Linked DNA regions of Homo sapiens. The protein of the gene in region 1 interacts with the protein of each later gene in a biochemical or structural test. Each region holds a gene or a part of one and is shown in the gene's direction. Other genes may lie near its edges. The genes, in order: SLC31A1 and PRKAB1.

The links.
Region 2: of the proteins of SLC31A1 (region 1) and PRKAB1, one has a biochemical effect on the other in vitro, tested with the Homo sapiens proteins (one study listed by BioGRID).

Annotation. Positions count from the first base shown.
Region 1 is NC_000009.12:113,224,080-113,232,402, forward strand, and holds part of SLC31A1 (high affinity copper uptake protein 1), read left to right. Parts: intron 1-8,323.
Region 2 is NC_000012.12:119,670,544-119,678,866, forward strand, and holds part of PRKAB1 (5'-AMP-activated protein kinase subunit beta-1), read left to right. Parts: intron 1-1,757; coding exon 1,758-1,921; intron 1,922-3,420; coding exon 3,421-3,514; intron 3,515-3,796; coding exon 3,797-3,911; exon of another isoform or gene 3,912-5,883; intron 5,884-5,993; coding exon 5,994-6,127; intron 6,128-8,323. UniProt on the Homo sapiens protein: Non-catalytic subunit of AMP-activated protein kinase (AMPK), an energy sensor protein kinase that plays a key role in regulating cellular energy metabolism.

The DNA of each region.
Region 1 (8,323 bases):
GTTGCCTGTTTTTATAAGTAAAGCTTTATTAGAACACAGCCTTTCTCATTTGTTTATGTATTGTCTATGACTCCTCTTACCCTCCAAGGCAGAATTGAATATTTGTGATTGCAACAGAAACCACATGGCCTGCAACATCTAAAATGTTTACTTTTGGCCCTTTATAGAAAGAGCTTGCTAGCCCCTGGCCTACGTTATCTATGGTATTTTTAACATGGAATGAATACTTAAAGTCACTTGCAAAGCAGTCTCACTGCAGAATCTTTCTAGGTGTTTATGAAATGTCCTTCCAGACTTTTCTGTTGTCTCCCACACCTAACAGCAAGTTTATGTGTTATCTGTATGCTCACTTTTTTTTTTTTTTTTGAGACAGAGTTTCGCTCTTGTTGCCCAGGCTTGAATGCAATGGCACAATCTCGGCTCACCACAACCTCCACCTCCCGGGTTCAAGCGATTCTCCAGCCTCACCCTCCCGAGTAGCTGGGATTACAGGCATGTGCCACCATGCCCGGCTAATTTTGTATTTTTAGTAGAGACGGGGTTTCTCCATGTTGGTCAGGCTGGTCTGGAACTCCCGACCTCAGGTGATCCACCCGCCTTGGCCTCCCAAAGTGCTAGGATTAGAGGCGTGGGCCAACGCACCCGGCCTTGTGTGCTCACTTTTATCTGGTCTTTCGAAAGCATTCAGTGTGGTGTTTTAGAAATAACTACTAGAGAGTCTATGTAGTACAGTAGTTAAGTACTTGAGCTCTGGAGCCAAATTGCTTTGCCACTTATTAGTTGTATAGGCCATAGACAAGTTACTCAGTTTTTGCCTTTGTAAAACAGGCATAATGGTAGTATCCATTTCTAGGTTTCTTGTGAATATTATAGGAGTTAATTCATGTAAAGCATTTAGAACAGTGCCTGGCAGGTAGTAAGTACTCAGTGTTAATTGCTGCTGTCATTTTTCTCTTCTCATTTATACTTCATTGCTTTACATAGTATTTACGTACTTTCAGTAATAAGCACAACTGGCATAAATAGGTTTGTGAATAAACACACTGTCACCATTGATAAGCACACTTCACAGAGGGGGAACCAGAAGTGTTGTTCCCATCACATTGGAGAATAGCCTAATGGTGTGATGTCAGTTAAATTGGATAAGAGAGTTCTGTGGGATAGTTTGCTAAGAGTATAAGGCAACAGTTCACAGAAGAAAGTAATGGATTAAAATTGAAAAGGAATCCAGGACCATATTTGTCAAATACCTTGAAGGTCAAGGTGACAAGTTTGTACTTAGATTGGTAGGAAGTGGAATTTTTTATTCTAAATGGCATGATTGATGTAAAAAAGTTCAAATGGCTTAGGAGTGTATGAAGTAAAAAGTTACATTTCCCTAGCTCCATTCCATGTCAGTAGCCACTTCATTTTCTAATGGCCCCTAGAACATGAGGTTGTTGTGAAGGCATGGTAAACACCACTTGGGGCACTGGTATTAATCTGTTAAAATTTTCAATTCAGCTTTCCTTTGGATTATAATCTCAATTTTGAATTGAGAAAAATAAAGTTTCCATACTAAATGTGAATAAAATGAAATGACTGTTTTGAAAGTAGATACCATACTCATAAGAGTCTTTGATTCCTAAGTCTTTCTCTACCTCTTTTGTCCAACTTGGAAGTCTTGGTAGAGAAGGACTTAGGAATCAGAGACTCATCTCTACTGTTAATTCCTTTTTGCACCTTTCCCACCAGAAGTGCTACAAGAGAGAAAGATGATATAATAATCACTAGAAAAGCAAAGTGTTCGGCCAGGTGTGGTGGCTCCCGCCTGTAATCCCAGCTCAGGCAGATCACCTGAGGTCAGGAGTTCGAGACCAGCCTGGCCAACATGGTGAAACCCCGTGTCTGCTGAAAATACAAAAATTAGTCAGGCATGGTGGCGGGCACCTGTAGTCCCAGCTACTCAGGAGACGGAGGCACGAGAATTGCTTGAGCTCCGGAGAGGCGGAGGTTGCAGTGAGCTGAGGTCACGCCACTGTGCGCCAACCTGGGCGACAGAGTGAGACTCCATCTCAAAAAAAAAAAAAAAGAAATAAAGAAAGCAAAGTGTTTACAGTGACAAGTTGATTTCAACTAGCAGTTGTCAGTTAAGTTAGTAACAGGGCATCACCCAAATAACTGCATTTTAAAGTGGACAGGGCAGGCCTGACTGGGGAAAAGGGAGGGAAGGGGTAGGGGGTTCCTGATGCCTGTACTCCCACATGCAGCTCTTAAATCCATTTTAAAAACTTAAAAGTTTTCTGTAGTTTTGTGACTTAAGTATAACAAGTCATCAAAAGTCTGATACTTAATACATTACAATGAACAGTTTATGCCAAAAGAAATCTTATAGTAGGGCCTGGGAAGGAAATGCTTTTGAAGTTCCATTGCTTTGAGTAATATCATTTTATGATTTAGGTAACATCCCCAAGCAGAGGAGGGGCCCATCCTTAGGAATGCAAAGCCCTGCAGAGAAGGAAAGGGTTGAGAAGGGTCCACCCTACCTCTTTTCCTTTACACAATGGCCCTAGGCTTTTGTATACAACCTGCTTTTGTAGGCTTAGGACATTATGAAATACAGCATGGTAAGATGGAAGCCTGAATCTCAAAAGTAAATATGAGAAATGATTTGGAGGGAACATATAAAGAGAGCAAAATTCTAGCAACAGGTGACATATTTCCCTAGATAGAAGAGTTATTGTAGAACTATGATGAGTGTTTATATAATTTTGAAGCAGTTTACAGCATCTAGAATGTAGTCATTTAATTTATGAAATGAAAGGGAAATGGTGTAACTCATACACCCGCATCCTCTCTCCTACCTTTTCTGATGGCTTTTTATGAGTTCTCACACAACCCCTATGCATAATCTATACCTTAGTACATTTTACATTATTTTTAAATTATTTACATGTGTCCCTCTTTCACCAGAATGGGTTTCTTATGGTTAGAGTTTCATCATGGTACCTTCATTCGATAGGTATGCAATAAATAGTGAAAGAATAGTCTGAGTTCCTTGAAATTGCATAGCAAATGAGACCTAAGAGCCAGATCTAGAATGCAGATGTAGAACCTCTTTCAGTTCCTAGCCCAGTACTTTTACTGCCACACCATACAGCCTCTATCTGAGATATTGAACAATTTTTTTCTTTTTTCTTTTATTTTTTCTTGAAACAGGATCTTGCTTTGTTGCCCAGGCTGGAGTGCAGGAGCACAATCTCAGCTCACTGCAACCTCTGTCTCCCAGGCTCAAGCAATCTTCCCATCTCAGCCTTTCGAGTAGCCGGGACTACAGGCATGCACCACCACGCCCAGCTAATTTTTTGTATTTTTGATAGAGTCGGGGCTTTGCCATGTTGCCCAGGCTGGTCTCAAACTCCTGAGCTTAAGCAGTCTGCCCACCTTGGCCTCTTAGAGTGCTGGGATTACAGGCATGAGCCACCATGTCCAGCCTCATTTGCATTCTTGTACTGCATTTTCATTAAATCATTCAAGTTCCTTTTATCTTGTGTAACATATTTAATTGCATTTTCCTACTGAATAAAAAAAAGGGAACAGTTCAAATGTTTTCTAGTTTCTGTCTTATGCCATATTAATTTCCAATATTACTCATAGGCAAACCAACAACATTATTATCCAAACAGTTTAAATGCTATGTAATATAACTAAAGCAAAGTTTAGACAAGGAGGACCATTGTCTACATTTGATTATAACAATAAAGCAGTTAAAGCAATGCTTTGCCAATGTATATTTGTCTGACTAGCTAGTTTTGTTTAAATCAAACTGTGAAAGGCTGTATACTTCAAGAAACATGAAAGTGAGCCTTATGTGTGACTTAGTTCCTTTCAGAGATTAATTTTGTCATCTAATGAGCAAGCAAGCTATTATATTTCATATTTACTGTACCTTAAAATTGGAAAGTATTTAACATATTTTATTTGACCCTTACAATACTATGAGATTGGCAGCGTAGGTATTTTAATATCTGTTTTGCAAATTTTGCAAATTTTGGTGATTTGCCTAATGTCACATGGCTAGTATATGGCAAATGTGGGTCCAGAGCTCAGAGCCTTTGATGCCTCGTGCTGCATGCTTTCTCCACTCTAAGATACTATCTAGAAAACACTGAAATTGTCACATAAATCATACTAAAGCACAGTTAGCGGACTGGAAGTGCGTCAAGGCTACAAAAGGATCCTGTAAGAGGAGCATGAAAGGGTGCATCATGTGATTACATTATTCCAGGATGTGGCTTACCCAACAACAAAAGGTATCACAGAAATGGAGTAAAGTAGCTGGGAGATCCACTCCCCATTGGACTTAGGCCCTGTTATCATTACATAACTAAAAGACCTTTTCAGTTTGTTTGTTTGACATATCAAATTTGAGTTGTCCTATTAGAACCAGGCAAATAAAAGCTTTTGTAAAGGCCTTTGGAAGAATGTAGTTGTACACTTGATCTTCTTTGTACAGAAGGGTGGGAGTGGGCAAGAGAAATAGGAGCTTCTATGTTATTTGCCACCAGAACAGGATATGTAAAGCTCAGAAACCCATCCTGCTTAGCTGCTTCCCAGCAAGCCATCCGGAGAAATGGGGCTGGAGAAAGCGGTTAGTCTAGTGTTATGGAGCCTTCTATCAGAAGCAGATGTTATGGATTCACCTAACTAAAGAATGTTAGTGTCATCATTTAATAACATAAGCCTCAGTTTCCACATCTGTAAAATAAAGGAGTTGGATTTGATGATACTTTTTTTTTTCTTTTGAGTTGGAGTTTCGCTCTTGTTGCCCAGGCTGAAGTGCAATAGTGTGATCTCGGCTCATTGCAACCTCTGCCTCCTGGGTTCAAGTGATTCTCCTGCCTTAGCCTCCCTAGTATCTGGGATTACAGGCATGTGCCACCACGACCGGCTGATTTTATATTTTTAGTAGAGATGGCGTTTCTCCATGTTGGTCAGGCTGGTCTTGAACTCCTGACCTCAGGTGATCCGCCCGCCATGGCCTCCCAAAGTGCTGGGATTATAGGCGTGATCCACTGCGCCTGACTGATAATTTAATTTTTTAAATAGGAAATATATTCATATGGTTTGTAATTCAAAAAGTACACAAGGATATTCAGTGAAAAGTATTTCATTTACTCCTACCCACTTCTGACCAGCTCTCCTTAGGGACCACGGTCCTATTTTGCCTCCCAGGCTCAACCAACAACTTTGTTGTTTCCCCCCAACTCCCCTGCAGATAGTATAGGTGTATAAAAATAACATGAACATACTCTGTTTCCTTTTTAAGTTTTTTACAAATTATAGCATACAGTATATTCTGCTTTTATTTCATTTCATAATACGTCTTACAGATCATTCTATATCAATATATATGATCGTTCTCATTCTTATTCTGCTAAGTATTCCATTGTATGAAAATATGATAACTCATTTAATCAGTGCCCTATCAATGAACATTTAGGTTGTATTTTTAATATTTTGCTATTACAAACACTCCTGTTATAAGTAACTTTGTACATACACATTTCACATATGTGCCAGTTTATCTGTAGAATGAATATTTAGAAGTGGGATTACTGTGTTAAAGAATGTGGGCAGACTGATGACTGTTCTAGTTTTGATCTTCTATGAGACTTTAACTGAAAATGATTAGTGGAAAAGAAAAAGTATCATTTTCTTGGTAATATCTTAATTTTTATCTCTTACTATTCAGAACTAAGTCTTAAGTAAGAGCCAAGAATAGGTAATCTCTCCAAAATTATGTTGAATTGCAGACTTCACTAAAGTCACCTGCATCATGGTCTTGTAGATTTTTCTATTGCTTTTCAGTATAATACTATTCAAGCTATTTGCAAGGTGAATATTATAAACTCAGAACAAAAGGAGACTGTCTCCCAACTATGTTTACTAGCATTTACCAAGTAGAGGATTCAGAAGATTTGCTCTTTATTACAATTTATGTAGGGAGTGAAGATGGAAAGATGAAACAAAGAGAGCCTAACAAATATCTGCCTCTGTCTGTGTTTTACTGTCTTCCCAAATTTTTGGATGGTTATGAGGTGTGTGATAACTTTACAAAGTGTATGATACCATAACAATTACTAATCTTTTGGGGATTTGTTTGTTTGTTCGTTTGTTTGAGAGACAGAGTCTTGGTCTGTCGCCCAGGCTGGAGTGCGGTGGCGCGATCTCAGCTCACTGCAGCCTCAACCTCCCTGGCTCAGGCTATCCTCCTGCCTCAGCCTACCAAAGTAGTACAAAAGTAGATCCTATGGCCTCAGCCTATAGCTGAGACTACAGGCATGCATCTCCACGCCTGGCTACTTTTCTTGATTTTTTGAGGAGACAAGGCCTCACTATGTTGCCCGGGCTGGTCTTGAACTCCTGGACTCAAGAGATCCTTCCACCTCAGCCTCCCAAAGTTCTGGGATTATAGGCATGAGCCACTGTACCCTGCCTGTTTTGTTTTTAATTAATACATAATAATTGTACATATTTATGGGGTACAGTGTGATATTTTAATACGTATATAAATTGCATAATGATCAAACGATGGTGTTTAGCGTATACATCACCTCAAACATTTATCATTTCTTTATGGTAAGAACATTCAGAATTCTCTCTTCTAGATATTTTGAAATAGCCACAATAACATTGTTTACTATAGTCACTAGTCTTTTGGGGAAGCTAGGGACCATAAAGCAGATCAGAATTGTATCAGCCCCTCATGCTTTCTTGACTATAACCTACTAACTTTTCTTTTCTCCCCATCTCACCTCCCTCATTCTCTTTCTAGGTACAATAAGCCATTTGTGAAATTTTCCCTGTTCAATAGCAAGTTTAAGCCAGAGCCTCCATCCTTTCCATCTCTGAATTCCCTATAGCCTCTGGGGCAGAGGGTACTTCATAATACTTGTTGAGTTGAATTGAGGTAGATGTCAAAGTGATCTGACCTCACTTTGCTCCCCTCTCAAGTGCCATATCCTTCCTTTTCCCTGCTCAGCCTTGACACACCTATCAAGCCATCCCTTTGCATGCTTAATTTGGTTCAGGAAAGGACAAGAGACCAAGTAAATTATCTTGAAGAGGAGTCTGTGTCTGCCTATGTTTAAGTAAATGCGCACACACACCTATCTTTCTGGCTCCTGCTGCCATTCTTTGTGTTGCGCTTAAAAATTGGGGGCCGGGTACGGTGGCTTACACCTGTAATCCGAGCATTTTGGGAGACTGAGGCAGAAGAATCACTTAAGGGCTGGAGTTCAAGACCAGCCTGGGCAACATAGGGAGACCCCTTCTCTACAAAAAGTTTTAAAATTAGCTGAGCATAATGGTATGTACCTATGTTCCCAGCTACTCTGGAGGCTGAGGTGGGAGGATCACTTGAGCCCAGGAGGTGTAGGCCGCAGTGAGCTGTAATCATGCTACTGCACTCCAGCCGGGACAACAGAATATGATCTTGTCTCAAAAAAAAAAAAAATGGGGAAATTATTTATTTAGTTATGCATTAGTGGTAGCTGTGGAGTTAGGCACACCTGGTAGGAACAGCATTGGAATGTATAATTCAAAATACACATGTATCTTTTTATTCACATGAATTCCATTTTATGTGTATGAAATCATCAAGATCAAAGTGAATATTAGATGAATATGAACTCTAGCTTATTGGACATTTAGAAGATAGAGTTTGATTAGTGTTGATTTTTTTTTATTTTAGATTTTAAAAACTTGTCTATGGGCCATACGTTAAGTACTCATAGTATCTCTGTGGAAGAGTTCTGATAAACTCTGGGATAGGCGATAGCCAGGCCCACATGTGGACTATAACTCCTGTAAAGTTACAGATAACAGAATTATATGGTCTAACATGCAGCTCACTTAGGCAGTCCTACCTTTCCAAATGTTTTCTTCAATGCCATATTCCCAGGGAAAATTGCTGCTGGGTAGTTGAAACTAGGTGCCTCACTGGACTTCTTCCTATTATTTGGGCAACTTGTAAAAGCTTACAAACTTTCTAGAAAGTAGCCCTGAAAACAGTTCCTTCGTTATGTTTTTAGCAATACCACAGAATACATGGTTCTATGTTATAGCTTAGAATTGCTACTACTCTTACAAAATTGGAACATAGAAAAGATGGACAAAAACCTAGTATAATGTATCATTATTTCCATTTCAAGATGGCGTTTTGAACTCATCTCTTTTCCTTCCCAAAATCCTAGTGAAATTATCATAGGAATATGAAGAAGCATTATTTATAGTCAGAAAACAGGGAGAAAGAAGCCAGAAACTTTAAAACATTTCAAAG
Region 2 (8,323 bases), on another chromosome or scaffold:
AGGAGGTAATTTTGGTCCCTGGTCCCAAGAAGGCTATTTAAGACACCAAAGGAATCAAAACTACTTTCTTCAGAAGTATTTGTTCTGTTACTATTCCAAAACTCCTCCAGGAAATGTTGAGCACACACATCATCTATGGGGAATGATTTCAAGCAGCGTCCATTCTCACTTCATTAGAAGTTACTGAAATCCCCAGATACCAAAAAAGTCGTGAATTCTTTTAACTACACTAGGGTGCTATTTTGGTCATAATTAGTTATCCTTAGTGTGAAGTGATTCCAGTCTGTTATTTAATATGTAGATCTTGTTAGAATTCAAAGAATACAGGCATCATTTGGATAAGCTGAGGTCGGTATTTGAGATGAAGGTGCTAGAAGCCTGCTTAACTCCCTGAAGAGTCTTTTCCAGCCTGAACCTTCTGCTCTTTTTAAGTCTTTGGCTTCTGACTGGGAAAAAATCTAAAAGGTGCATGACTACATATGTCATCCAGATAGATTTGGATGAGTTTATTTCTTATTCTGGAATACCTCAGTTATACGGAGCTTACCACACTGGAGGTTATCATTTATCCTAATGAGGGTTCAGTCTTTGTCTTGCTTTATTCCCCAGTCCCTAGACAGAACTTTGTGAGTAGTTTTTCCCTTCCTCAAAATCTGGATTTGCCTATTTTCAAGTTGACAGCTCTAGAATTGTTCCTCTTAAATTTTCATGTACAGTCATACATCACTTAATGACAGGGACATATTCTGAGAAATACATCATTAGGTGATTTTATCATTGTGTGAACATCATAGAGTGTACTTACACAAACCTAGTCTGTTCTCATGCTACTATGTAGAAATACCCGAGACTGGGTAATTTATAAAGAAAAGAGGTTTAATTGACTCAGTTCCGCATGGCTGGGGAGGCCTTAGGAAACTTACAATCATGGTAAAAGGCACCTCTTCACAGGACGGCAGAAGAGAATGAGAGCAAGCAGGGGAAATGCCAGATGCTTATAAAACCATCAGATCTCATGAGACTCACTCACTGTCAGAGAACAGCATGGGGAAACCGCCCCCATGATCGATACCTCCACCTGGTCCTGCCCTTGACACGTGGGGATTATGGGGATTACAATTCAAGGTGAGATTTGGGTGGGGACGCAGAGCCAAACCGTATCACCTAGTCTATATGGTGTAACCTGTTGCTTATGGACTATAAACCTGTACAGCATGTTATTCTACTGAATACTGTAGACACTTATTCCACAAGTATATTTAAGGATTTGTGTACTTAAATGTATCTAAACATAGAAAAGATAACAATAAAAATATGGTATAATCTTATGGGACTACCATATACACAGTCCGTCGTTGACTAAGACATCATGCACATGACTGTACTTCAAATCTTGCTTGATTAAGGGAGGAACATGACATTAAGCTAGTCTTGGATTCGTAGTAGCCCCTTCCAAGTGTGTTTCATAGCTTCTTCTAGAATTTTGATGTCAACTTCTTTAATGACAACAATAGCTAATAATTAGCACTCACTGTGTCAGACACTATATAGAGCACTTACATGGACTGTCTCAGTCTTCACAACCTTAAAAAATATATTTCTATTTTGCAGGCAAGGAAACTGAGGCACCACTAGTAAGTTTCCGATCCTAACCATGAACCAAGATAGTAACAGCTGCGTCTTTAGAATGAATTGTCAATATTGTCTGTTGTAGGGAGCTCGCTTATGGCTTTCTGAGTAAACTGCTCTGCTTCTAGGCACCAGAGAAGGAGGAATTCCTGGCCTGGCAGCATGATCTGGAAGTGAATGATAAAGCTCCCGCCCAGGCTCGGCCAACGGTGTTTCGATGGACGGGGGGCGGAAAGGAAGTTTACTTATCTGGGTCCTTCAACAACTGGAGTAAACTTCCCCTCACCAGAAGGTAATTGCCTGGGGAGTGTTCACATATTTGTCTTAACATAAATTCTCTTCTTTCTAAAACATCTCTGAGAGAGAACAGAAAATGGATGTTTCTATAAAATGGATGCCTAGTGGAAAAATAATTTTGCTTAATAAGTCTTAAGGTTCAAATGTTAAACCTTGGTGGTCTCTAGGTTTAGAGTACAGAAGAAAGAGAATATTTCTGTGTCACAGACATCTTTCACTTCAGATCCTCAGCTATCTGTTCGGTCAGGACTTTTCCACAGAAACACAAAAATCTGTCTTAATGCAGTAAGGGAGCACTGGGCTGGAATCTTAGAAACCCACATTTGAGCCCACATTGGCCATGCTGTCAGTCACCTAACGTTAGTTAACCTGAGCCTCAGCGTTCGTTTCTGTAAAGAGGGAATATTGGACCAGATCATCTCTGAGGTTTCATCTAACTTTGACTCTGCGTAATACTTTGTTTGAAAAGTACATGTTGGCTGGGCATGGGGGCTCATGCCTATGATCTCAGCACTTTTGGGGGCTGAGGCAGGAGGATTGCTTGAGGCTAGGAGTTCAAGACCAGCCTGGGCAACATAGTGAGACCCCCATCTCTACAAAAAAATTAAAAATTAGCTGGACATGGTGGTGCACACCTGTATCCCCAGCTACTCGGGAGGCTGAGATGGGAGGATTGTTTGAGCCTGAGAGGTCAGTGCTGTAGTGAGCAGTGGTTGCACCACTGCACTCCAGCCTGGGCAACAGAGCAAGACTTTGTCTCCAAAAAGAAAAGAAAAATACATGCTATGTAGGTGTCATTAGCAAGGATTATAGTAAGACATTTTATCAGGAACCCCAGCATGGACTTCTGTCTTAAGTTGTCAGTGAGAGAACACCTTTAGTGAGTATTCTTGATAAAATGAGGGAGAAAGTGTCAGGCCTATTGTCAGGGGCTGCCTGCTTTCCAGCGTTTCCATTGGAGAAGGAGGGAGCCACTCAGCACAGCAGTCACAGGTCAGTTCAAGCCAGGGGACAAAACAACCCAGTGAAGGGGCTCTTCCGGAGTTTGGTTTTTCAGTCATTAGGCAAGTTTCTTTAGAGAACATTTGAGCTTCCTATTCAATTGATCCCTTCTCCTGCCCAAGGCAAAGTGACAAAGGGTAAAACGAGGCAGCTTCTGTTTATCTTGTGTTGTCATCCTCCTTGGCATCCAGGAGCCTTGCGAGCTTGAGACGCACAAATGCCTGACTGTTGACCTTTTAACATTAGGGATGTGGTTTCCTGGTATTTGAGTAAGGTGAGTTTTCAGGAAACTGTGTCGCACTGCTGCTTCCTTATAGCCTTTTCAGATTGAGGTCATTATGCTGAATTGTCTAAATGGGCTAAAAATGTTTGTTCTCCTGCAGCTGAACTCTTGGTTTTATGTGGAAACGTTTTGTTCTGTAGCTGGTTTGGCAAGTAAGCTCGGGGGGCAGCCCACCCCACGGAAGTCCTCTGCTTCCTTTTTCCTTGCAGCCACAATAACTTTGTAGCCATCCTGGATCTGCCGGAAGGAGAGCATCAGTACAAGTTCTTTGTGGATGGTCAGTGGACGCACGACCCTTCCGAGGTACTCTTCCTCCCACCTCTGGTCCTCTGGGTGCCCGCACATTCCAAACAAATCACCTTCCCAAGAGATTGCCGCTAGGTCCCTTTGCCCAGCTAGTAAAAGTCCCCGTGTGTGGCAGAGCTGAGTAGCAGCACTACCTGTCAGACAGTTGGCATACTTGACCAAGATGAGCAGGGTGGCTAGCCAGGAGATGAGGCCTTCCAGCCAGGAATTCCAAGTCCTCTGAAGAATAACTCCGCAGACCTTCCACGTTATGATTTCTGCCTATCTGTCTCTTCCCAGCCCATAGTAACCAGCCAGCTTGGCACAGTTAACAACATCATTCAAGTGAAGAAAACTGACTTTGAAGTATTTGATGCTTTAATGGTGGATTCCCAAAAGTGCTCCGATGTGTCTGGTATGAACACAGTTATTTTATACCACATGCGTGCAGGTGGGGGCTGTACAGTCTAGACATACTCTTGTTTCTCTTGCCTCTCTTGAGCTGAAGCTGCCCAGTCAGATAGGCATTTATAGCCCCCACTTAAAGGCCACAGAACTTAATTCCTGTCAGGTTGTTGAAATTTAGCCCTAAGGGAGCTACAAGTCATTTCCCTGGTCATCTCAGGTATTCAGTAGGTCTGCTTGGCCACAGAACGCAGACAGCAGAAATGGAACCATAGCTTGATCTCGTGCCAAGGGCAGGGCTGAAGAGGCCCTGGAGGGTGGCACTGAGTCAGTGACAGCCCAGCACTGGGGAAGCCTGTGTCTCATCCCACTTGTGGTGCCTGAAGAATTTCAGCCTGACAGGTGTAAATGGACACCTCAGTGACCTTAGCAGTCACTTATGTGGTACATTAGCACCTTGTCAGAATCCCTTTGGGGAGGATGCGGCTCCCCACGGGAAACAGCCTGCACAGCCCAACTCTCCTTGATGGGAAGCTATTTGGTACAGAAATACAGACCCAGTAAAACTTCTCCATCTTGTAAGAGCCTTTCAGGCATCGAGGTTTCAATAAATTGCTTTCCCTCCAAGCCCCACAGGAAGAAACTACCTGGAACATGATTCATACAGTTCGGGGGAAGAGGGTTGCGATCTAAAGTGTTCCCCTTCTTGGAGGCGGGGGCTTAACAATTCCTGGACTCTGAGGGAGGCAGTGGAAAGATGCCCTGGCAGAATATCTGGCGCCCTAAGAAAACAGATTCCGTTCGTTGACAGGAGAGTTCTTCATCATTGTCTAGTTAGGCCTGGAAGTTCTGCCACCAGGATTTCTTGTTACCAGTTCAGAAATCACAGTGGTAAAATGATCACAATGGGCTCACTGTGGTTGACAGTTTGTTGAGCAGGACTTGGAAATCCGAAATCTGTGCTTTTATCTGGGTAATTAGTCTTTTAGAGATATCATCTAGTTTTTTTGCAGATAGTTGAGAATCAGGGAATGGAGGAAGTGTGCCCAAATATCCTCCAAAATATATAACTTACTGATACATGTAATTTTAAGCCACTTACAAGCTTTTTAGTCAAATTTCCACCTAGGGAAAGGAAACGGACCCCTCACTGATACGAAGCTAATTCCACGTTCTCTACAGACTTCTGTTTCGACACTTACTTCCTCAAAATGTTATTTACTCCTTATGGCTCAGTTTTCTGCACTTCATGCTTTTCTCAGTTTCTTGCTGTGATATGGTTGGGTCACATAAACGGGGCTTGTCCCCTGAAAAATGACATTGAGGGAATTGGCAGAGCTGGGGCATAGCAGATTTTCCCTGGACCAGTCCCAGGATCTGGCGACCAGAACCATCCCACGCGTTCTTTGGATGATGGCTTGGTACCTTCTGGCTGGCCAAACGTCACTATCCAGTGTTCTAGCATTATGAAATCCTGCTCTTGTAGCAGCTTCTCAGTGTATCTGAATAATCCAGATACTCAAGCAAGAGTTTGGAAGGAACTTGAGTGTAATGGAGTTAAAGAGCCTTTAGATATTGGGCTTTCAATTTTCCCCCCCATTTTGAAATGTGCCTCGTTTAGCCTGTTTTCTCCACGGCCTCTGTGTAAACAGACTGCCTCATCTTCTGTTGCATTGCGGCCGGGGGTGCCCATAACTTGGACTTAGCTACTCAATCCTCACTTAGCCTCCAGCTTCTTTGTGGTTTTGCCAGCCCAGCCTGAAGGGAGAAGGAAGTCTTATTCTGCCGTGCGTGTGGGATTAAGTTATCGAGAATAGCCTCCTTGTGATCTGACGCAGACTCACTGGCTGGGCCGTGTCTTCCACCAGGGCATCTGAGTTGACTACTGAGTTGTATGCTAGTCACCCAGATTCCAAAAGGGTTTTCTCCTCTCCTCTATTCTGCACTCTTGGAACCAGTGCATCCTTCAAGAGAATGTAAATCTGCATTGAGGGAACAAGAGACAAGGAAAATGAGATGATGACAACATAAGTAAGGCTGCTCCTAGAATGCCTGATTTTCAAAGTAAAGTCCTGTTACCATCTCCCAACAGAGCTGTCCAGTTCTCCCCCAGGACCCTACCATCAGGAGCCCTACGTCTGCAAACCCGAAGAGCGCTTTCGGGCACCCCCTATTCTCCCCCCACATCTCCTCCAGGTCATCCTGAACAAGGACACGGGGATTTCCGTAAGTATGTGGGCATCTGCCCGGACCATCCGCCGTGGGTCATGTTCAGTTGCTTTCTTTCCTGTGTCCACCTCTTGCAAAGCAGCTGGTGAGCAAGCTCAGTGTCACCCCCTAGTGTGAACTGTGCCGTTCACCTCTGCTGTGGGGATGGGCTGATAACAAGAGGTTCCCAGTGTGGACACCGCTGCCTCGTCTTGCAAAGCCTTTCTGCACTACTCTTCCTTGTCCTTCACGCCTGCCTCAGTCTAAGCCCTGTTCAATTTACATTTCATGACAAACTGTATCACCATCTCTTCTTAGTAAGCTACATGCTCTGGCCCCCACATTTTAGAATCTAGTTTTAATCATTCAATTGCTTTTAGAAATATCAGTACTCCTGGATCAAAATTTGGGATATCTAGGTAACACACATTTCTCCTCCGGGAAATTATTACATGCAGAAAAGAAGTGTGTGTCCTCCTGGATCTTGAAGAACAGCCAGTTCTGTTGTGATTCTGTTTTCTGTTCCATCTAACCTGGATTGCCTGCCCAGTCCGCCTAGCTCTGGGATGCATGGCACAGCCGTAATTCTTGGGAATCCAGGAATTCAGCTTGGTCCAAGCTACCTCTTAAGAGGCATTGTTTACGAGGTGCTTAAAGTAACCATGCTGCTACTGAACACTCCACCCTGAAGTGGAGGGCATGTGTGCTGAGACGAGGAATGCACGTGTACACATGCAGGTGTCCCTACAGTGGTCCCTGCCGGGCTGCCAGGACAGGGTCTCAGTGCTTGTTACCCTACAGGGTACCCAACAGGGCTTGCCTTTCTCAGGTCACCTCCTGTGCTGGGAGTGCCCCTGCAGCTGGGTAGCCATCCTGGTATAGGCCCAGAAGAGGCCAGTGGTAAGGACAGCACGCCTCAGCTGGCAGGGCCCACCATCTTTCCAGCACTGAGTTGGCAACAGTCTCAAATAGGTCACAGGTGAAGAGTTTCAAGGACATGTAGCTTCTGCCTTAGAAGCACTTAGTTGACACTGCTTCCCTTAGCTCTAACTTTACAAAGGTTGGTGGGTAAGATGACTTTCAGTGCCCTCCTAAGCTAGTGAGGTTTGTTTTTTTTTTTTTTTTTTTTTGAGACGGAGTCTTGCTCTGTTGCCCAGGCTGGAGTGCTGTGGTGCCATCTTGGCTCACTGCAAGCTCCGCCTCCCGAGTTCACGCCATTCTCCTGCCTCAGCCTCCCGAGTAGCTGGGACTACAGGCCCCCGCCACCACGCCCGGCAAATTTTTTGTATTTTTAGTAAAGATGGGGTTTCACCATGTTAGCCAAGATGGTCTCGATCTCCTAGCCTCGTGATCCACCCGCCTCGGCCTCCCAAAGTGCCGGGATTACAGGCGTGAACCACCGTGCCTGGCCAGGTTTTGTTTTTTCTAGAAAAGGGAGGCATCACTAGCCATCTTCTCTGATGGAGACTGCTGCTGGGAATAGACAAGCTGAGAGTGGCCCAGGGGGCTGGGAATATGAGAATGTCAGGACCCCTCTGTCCAAGGTAGCACTAAGCTCTAATGTAAACTGTGGTTACAGTTGTCACTACTAAAGGGTTAACATTTATTTTGCCCCAAACTAATCTTAAGTGCTTTTCGTGTATTCTTATTCAAGCCTCACAACAACCATGTGAAGTAGGTGCAATTATTACCCCCATTTTAGGGATGGGGAAACTGAGGCACAGAGCAGTAGGGAGAACACTTAAAATCTACTGTCTTAGAGATTTTCAAGAATACATTGTTACTAATAGTCACCGTGTTGTACAGTGGATCTCTTGAACGTATTCCTCCTGTCTAACTGAAATGTTGTATTCTTTGACCAGCATCTCCCTACCCCCACCACTCCTAGCCGCTGGCAACCACCACTCTACTCTCTACTTCTGTGAGTTCGACTTTCTTGGATTCCACATAAGTGACATCACATGGGATTTGTCTTTCTGTGCCTGGCTCATTTCACTTAATGTCCTCCAGGTTTATCCATGCTGTCACAGATGACAAGATTCCTTTTGTAAGGCTCAGCAGCACTGCATTGTGTATCAGTACCTCATTTCTTTATCCATTCATCCATTGTGGACACCTACGTTGATTCCACGTCTTGGCTATTATGAATAGAGCTGCAGTGAACGTGGGAGTACAGATATCTCGACATGCTGATTTCATTTCCTTGGAGTATCT